Homo sapiens: one gene and its partner. The protein of the gene in region 1 interacts with the protein of each later gene in a pairwise test. Each region holds a gene or a part of one and is shown on either strand. Other genes may lie near its edges.

Region 1 (4,146 bases):
TATATGCTTTCCTCAACACCAACTTACCAGAAAGGAAATCAGCTGAAAATATGTAAGGTTCTCTGGAATGCTTCTGATCACACTAAAATATTATTGCTAATTACACAAAAAACAAAAAATTCTTATCTACCTATCAGTCAAAAAAAAAAAAACACAAAAACATAAACAAAACTAGGTGTTATCTTTCAGCCAGCCCACATAAAGACTACATTGATGATCTCAGAAAACAGGCACAACTACAACTTTGCCAAAACAATTCTCAGTACAGGCCACACTCGATGCTTAGCTACACAGTGACTCTTTGTTAAATCTTATCACTACCACTGACAGCCTTGTAAATATATAAACAAGCAATTCAATCGTTAGCTTATCTTTTTTAAATATTTTAAAGAGCTAAGGAAGAGTACGTATATCTAAGTGCTGAAATTCTGAGAGTGGTCTAGAACTCCATTCCTGGATTCACGATAAAGCCTGATCAAATTTCAATACCTCTTCTCTTTGGGCTATTACTAGGAATGGAGAGGGACAAGGAACGCTAGTCAAGGGCCTACCAGAGCCACATACTGAGCTGTGCTTCTGTGCAGAATTTAAATTCATTTACCTAATGCAGACTGGAAGTCAAAGCAGAAACTAGTAAAATTTTATCAACTAAAAAGGATTGGCTTGATCACTGCTAGGTTTTAAGTAATGTGTGTACAAATCTACGCTCCAGGCATTTACAAAATTAGGCATGCAATAATATTAATCTGTTTAACTGGGACAAGAATCTAGATAAATTTTTCTCCTAGAAAAAAGCACTATTTTAAGCATACTAAACTTTTTATAATGACAAAAATCAGTTTGTCTTTAAAAAAGTGCATTAAATTGTACACTGTTTACTAATTTTCAAACCTTAATGAAAATTTAAATACATAATTTTCCACGTTTTTCCTTCAAGTTTAGATGATAATGCTTTTTGTTTTTTTAGGAAAACCTCTATTTTTTACATATGACTGTCCATATAATTGTATGCATGGCCCCCAAAACTGCTTCTTCGTTTTTTTAATCTCCTGGGTAACTGTCAGACTTAACTTTGTCAATATAAATTCTCACAGGGTGGGCAAAAAAGAGTTTCCAGAACGGAGCAGTAGATTGAGATTGATACAGGCATAAATCCATACCTGCGTATTAAAAATCTGAATCTGTAAAATTAATTTTCTGGGTGCTTATTCAACCTCATTTATTATTTGAGTATCTACAATACACAGCAACCGTTCATGAAGAAACTTAGCTAGCTAATCAAATAAGACAATTCAGAAACATCACCCTACAGTATTTTTCAAAACACTGTATCCATATCCATGCACAACCCAATCGTTGGGTTATATACGTGGAATAAAATAGTAAAGGCACAATCCTAGAGGGGAAACTCAATTCTGACATTCATGGTCTCATGGGTAGGGAAAGATCTCATATCTTAAATCAGCAGAAATAAAGGCTTCAGCCTGAAGGGAAAGCTAGATCATTGTTTATTGCACTCCAATTTAACCTCCACCATGGAAGCTGTCACTACCTGACTGGCTTGTTAGCTGTTTATTTCGTCGGGAGAGGATTCCGTCTTGCGAATCCTAACGAGTTCGGGAAAAAACAAAACTTTACTCCTAAACTTCAAAACACACACACACACACACACACACACACGCACACACACTAAATACATATAATTGTAAAAATCACAGCCACGTTCATTTTTTTTAAAGTCCCAATCTAAAACCTTAAAGAAAAAAAAAGACTTGAAGGAACCAAAAACATTCTTTGATTTTGGTTTGACGTTGTTCAGTCCAACCTCCTCCTACCCAGGGGAATACATTTCTCGATATATTTGATAACAAACACAAATCACTGTGCGCAGCCTCAGATGGGGGTGGGGGGGCGGAAGAGCCTTTTGGAGAAAGCCCTCCTCCGTTAGAAACAATAAATAAGGGAGCGAAGCCATGCACGTTCCTTCACACACGCCCCAAACGCACCTCGGCGAGCCACCCGAGGAGGAAAACTAGTGGGGCAGAGCCCTGAACCACCTCTCTTTCTCCATAAGCATCTCAAGACTTGGAAACTAAGAGGACAGACCTTTTCCTCCTCCTTCCCGCCCTCCTTCCCACCTCCGACAGACCCAAGAGCAGGAGCGGGGGCGCCAGCCCCACGCACTGCGCCTGCAGCCGCCGCTGAGACCCGAGCTGCCGGGCGGCGGGGCGGCCCGGGGCAGGCGGACCGGAGCCGCCACCGGGGGTCTCTGCGCCTCGCACCCCCAAGCCCGGCGCTGCCGACGAGCGGCCGCCCGGGTCCCTGCCCTCGCTCCGGCCTCGCTCCCCCGAGAGGAGACAAAAGGAAGGTTCAGCCGGGTCACCGCGCGGCCGCTGACGGGGAAGCAGAGTCGACCCCGGCGCGGCCGCCCCCCACACAAAGGGGCTCCCCGCCTGGGTCGCGGCGTCGGCGCACTCGTCCCCGCCCCGCGCGCGGGCTCTCACCCACCTGCAGGTGTCTGTGCGTCTGTCCATAGGAACGCGGTCGGCGCGGGGGGGCCTGCGAGAGCCGGGCAGCCCGGGCTGGACGGGACGGGCCGAAGGGGCGCGAGGGCGGGAGGAGAGCGGCCAGAGGGCCGGGCACCAAAGGTAAGTGGAGCGGGGAAGGCGCCCGGCGGGCGGCGGACCGAGGAGCGGGGCGGGGGGCGGGGGCGCCAGCCTGGCTCGGCCGACCGCCGCGCGCCGCTCCGTGCGCCCCGAGCTCCGCGCGCCCGGCTCGGAGCGCGGCGGGCGGGCAGGGGGCGGGGCGCGGGCGGGCCGGGGCGGGGCCGGCGAGCGGGGCGGGGGCTCGGACCCCGGGCTCCAGCCGGCACCGGAAACGCGCCGTGGTCGGCGAGACCCACAGGAAGTGTGTAACGACACCTCCTACGGCACGCACCGAGCTCGCAGTCGTTGCTGCCCCGAGGAGGTGTAGATCGAGCCTCCTGCCGCACACACGTTCGCACGCGGCGGCCGGCGCGCTGGACCGAGAGGTTGGAGCAATCCATCCTCCGCGCGCACGAGCTCAGTCCCTACTGCCCCGACAGGTGTGGAACCCGCCGTCCCCGCTATGGTCCGAGGAAGTGTACAGCACTGCTCCCTACTACACGTCCTGGGCCCGCGGTCCCCGATGCCCCCCGGAGCTCTGTGCACCTCCACTGAAACGCAAGGAGCAGACAGAACCTACACCATCCGTGAGGTGTGTGATTTCCCTTATAACGCATTGAGTAGAGTTACCTCTCCGCCCAGGGATGTGCATTAACACTTTCTACCGAGATACTACGTACAGCCCATAGTCACCGCTGCCCCGTGAAGGTGCCCAACAACCACCTGTAACACACACACCCCTATCCCATCGAGGGAGCGGGGATGCTTAATGATACCTAAAATACACTAAAACTAGGTCCTCCAGCAAACCAGAGACACAAGAACACCACCTACACGACTCAGCACAGCAAAGATGAAGCTGGACTTGCTAGGTGCTACCAGGCTTGGTCCACCTTTATTTTACCTAACACTTTCGTAGTACTTGCTGTGTGCCCACAGTTTGCACTGAGTACTTAGCGAATATTAATTTATTTAATCCTAAGAACTCTACATAGTGGGTGCTATTAACATTGCCATTTTATGATAAGGAAACTGAGGCACAGAGAAATTAAGAAATTTTTTCAACATCACATAGATAGTAGCTAGAGGAGCCTGGATTCATTCCGGACAGTCTGGCTTCAGAGTCTGCTCTTAACTCCCTTTCTATTTACAGCACTGACCATCTCCAAAACAGTAATCATGGTAATAAATAACATTTACACCATATCTGTCAGGCCTTACGTAGTGCCCACATCTTGGCCTCACCTCATCTGTGACAGGCATACCCCAGTCACTTGTACCCTTGGAGTAGGTAAGGGAAGAGAAGAATATTTTTGAGGGAGAGAAAGAAGCTAACTTCTTAGCAAAGGAGAAAATATCCAGGGTCGTCCAGAATCCAAGCAGGTAACTTCATTACCACATCAAGCATGTTCTCTTTTAGGTAGCTTCTGCCAACCCCTCTCCATCTCTAGAGCTGATTCCGGTTGATGTTCTTAACACCTTCCTCTATCAACACTCTTCC
Region 2 (3,500 bases), on another chromosome or scaffold:
TTTCTCCTGACTGACTCAGGGCTCAGGATATGCCCTAGAGAGACCGTGGGCCTCCGTCCAGCCTGCAAGGTCCCGGCTAGTTCTAAGAGCCAAATACCAATTTTGGCTAAGGGTGAGAGGCTCTGAGGCTGGGGTGGACACTCTCACCTGTCCCTGTCCTAGCTCAGCCACTAACACCATGTGGCATCACACAACAGACTGGCCTGTGTGGCCCTAGTTCCTGTCTATGAGATAGGGACATAGCAGGGTGTGGCTGGGCTCTGAGAAGTAGGAGATGCTGGTGGACTCAGGATTCCTGGCATTTGCTGGCTTTTTTCATTCTTCTGCTGTCTGGTCTGCTCAGCCGGCTCCCTGCAAGCATGACCAGGGACTGCTGGGTGCTCAATGCAGGGCTGGGTTAGCCCGGCTCCCTCCCGAGAGAAGCCCACAGCCCTAGGTCAAGATAAGCCAGTGCCCAGCTGCCTGTGATATGAAGCAGGAGGCAGATGCGATAAGAGGTGTCAGGGCGGGCCCGGGAACTTTTGAACTTAAGGGGTGGGAGGGCCAGGAAGGCATCAGGGAGGAGGTTTCGTAGGAGCCTGAATGTGGAGACACTGCAGAGGGAAGGGGCAGAGGGACTGTGTGAGCAAGCACAGGCTAGGAGGAGGTGAGGGCCGTGGTACGGGAGTTGTTGGGTATGGTCAGGCTGGGGGTGCATGGGAGGAGGGTGGTGAGGGCTCAGGATTCGGGCCAGGGGCTGCATCCGGGGGAAGGGGTCTGGATTCCCAGAGCCTGTGATTTCAGCCCGCTGGGCTCAGGCAGAGGGCAAAGCTACCCTCTTCGGGGTCTTCTCCCAGCCCTGCTAATTCCAGGCCTGACTGCTCAAGAAGTGTTTCTACCTGCAGCATCAGGGGCCTGACTGAAGCCCTAAGTTCTCCCCTTTATCCCGTTTTTCTGGGCTTCAGTTTCCCCAGTCATAGAGTGAGAGGCCTCTTCATGCCACCAGTTCTCCCGGGGGTGCTGCTGCCTCCTCCAGAGCTCAGGGGAGGGATGGGGAAAGGAAGGCAGAGTTTCCATGTCCCTGCCCAGCCCGTCCTGCCCAGGGAGGGGCTGGGGGCTGGGTGGTGATGCCACATCTGGGACATATAATTACTGTTTCCGCCAGCCCCAGATGAGGGGGAGGGCACAGAGATGGGGAGCTTTGTGGTGGAGACTTCCCTCACCATGGAAAATCCTGACGCTGCTTCCCCTTTAGGGACCTCAGAACAGCCCAGCCGGTCCCAGTGTTGCCCACCCTGATGCTTGGCCCTGACTGGGATTTGCCCTGGGAACTCTGAAGGGGCCATGCTTTGAGAGGGGACACGGCCTCCTGGGATACCTGTCTGAGGGGCTCACCCCCTGCTCACCACTCCCAGGCCACAGCCTCCTGTCACACCTTGCCTTCCCTTCTCCACCCCAGGCAACCTTCTAGCAGCATGAAGTGGCCATTAGCTCACTGCAAGCCAATTCCAGATGGTACCCCCACTTAGTCTAGGGCCCCCACCCAGCAGGGGCCATGGCCCTTACCTTCTGGAAGCACCAATGAGTCTGGAGTCTCCTGAGTGGCTGGGATCTGAGCCCTCACACCGGGAGGTGAAGGCAGGAAAATGCTGTCCGCGAGGCCCTGCAAGTGGCCAGGATCCCCTCAGTCAGGGCTTCCCCATGGGGATGAGAGGGGCTCCTTGCCCACATGGAGTGGTGCCCAGGGGGATCATGAGGGGCTGTCTTCACTCAGCCAGGAGCTACAGTTCTGTGGGGTGGGCAGACTCTGAGGCTGAAATCTCCAACTTAAAAGATATCCGGAAAGGCCGGAAAATGCCCCCGGCCCTTCCAGCAGCTCCTTTCAGTGCCTGCAATCTCGCTGTCAGGGCCCCTTGAAAGGCAGATTTCTACTCAGTGTAAAGAAGGTTGTTGTTGATATTGTTGTTGACACGAAGAAGGGGCTGTCTCTAAGTCAATAAGCTCCCTGCCATTAGGGGTGTGCAAGTAGATGCTTTCTGGTGAGGAGGCTGCTTTGGGGGTGCTAGTCTATGCGGGGGTCCAGTGGGGTGGGTGACAGGTTCTGCAGCATAGGCTTTGTGTCATGCTGAGATCAGCAATTCTGATGGCCTGCGGGGGATCCTGTGCTTAGGTTTCTGGATCTGGGGCTGGAGAGTGACCACCCCGATGTGAGGCAGGAGGCACTTTTGGAGACTGCGGGGGCTCGAATCTGGGCCAAGGCCTCCATTTTACTGATGGGGAAACTGAAGCCCACAGAGGCGTGGAGACTTGTCAAGGTGGCACTGCCTCCTAGCCCTTGATTATTCCTGCTGCTCCAAAGTGTACACACATGGCACAAACACAAACATGCACACACATGTGCTCTTACGTGGAGGACACACACACATGGTACACAAAGCACATTCTCAAGACTGGGTGGTCCCACTCAGACTCTGGGACCCAAGGAGGGTTGGGCGGGGATTCCTCAATGGAGCCTTTTCCTCTCCCTGCCCTGGAGTTAGGAAAAGAAGGAGGGAGGGAGGGAGGAAGCCATTGCTTTGTGTATTGTTTCTTGTCAGGAAGATGAAATGGCTTCTGGGAGCAAATAAAGGCCTTGTTGAGACCTGCTGCTTTCTCACATGGGGGGCTCATTTTTTTCTCTTCTCTTCCCTCTCTAGCTGGTAGTGGCAGCTATGTGGGTGTGTGACACAGGGAGACAGTGAGGCACCCAGAAGTGCCATCAGACATACCAGTGCAAACACACAGCACAGCCTCCAGGACCTCATGTCCTGCAGGGATGCCTGTATGATATAGCTGTTCCCAGGGAGGCCGAGGCACTTGGTCAGTACCTCATCAGTTGATGAAAAAGAGTGTGCATTCTCTAATTCAGGGGTACAGGGTTTTCATATTTTTCTGAAGTCAAGCTTGTTAATTATGGGGTTCAAACCCTCCCTGATCATGTTATTGGTAGTTTTCGGCTGCTTCATTTATTCTGTACATTTCTAATAGAAGATTGTTAACATTTTTCACTCTGGTGGTAGGGTGATCCAGTCCTCCTTGTAATTTTGTCAATTTTCCCCTCATTTATTTTTAGGCTATGTTGTTTGGTGCATACAAGTGGGGGATTTTTGCAGTTCCTTTATAGATTTTTATTTTTTTTTTTGAGACGGAGTCTCACTCTGTCGCCCAGGCTGGAGTGCAGTGGCACCATCTCGGCTCACTGCAAGTTCTGCCTCCCGGGTTTATGCCATTCTCCCACCTCAGCCTCCCGAGTAGCTGGGACCACAGGCCACCACACCCGGCTAATTTTGTTTTTGTATTTTTAGTAGAGACGGGGTTTAACCGTGTTAGCCAGGATGGTCTCGATCTCCTGACCTTGTGATCCACCCGCCTTGGCTTCTCAGAGTGCTGGGATTACAGGCGTGAGCCACCGCGCCTGGCCAGTTCTTTTATAGATTTTTAAAATGTAATTATTGTGTAATAAACCACTTACAATCTAACAA

What was found. The genes of interacting proteins can lie anywhere in the genome.
Region 2: the proteins of KIAA1958 (region 1) and AQP1 interact in binary tests that used the Homo sapiens proteins (3 or more experiments, as listed by UniProt).

The regions. Positions count from the first base shown.
Region 1 is NC_000009.12:112,485,481-112,489,626, reverse strand, and holds the start of KIAA1958 (uncharacterized protein KIAA1958), read right to left. Parts: upstream 2,801-4,146; 5' UTR 2,509-2,800; exon of another isoform or gene 1,983-2,508; intron 1-1,982.
Region 2 is NC_000007.14:30,914,853-30,918,352, forward strand, and holds part of AQP1 (aquaporin-1), read left to right. Parts: intron 1-3,500. UniProt on the Homo sapiens protein: Forms a water channel that facilitates the transport of water across cell membranes, playing a crucial role in water homeostasis in various tissues.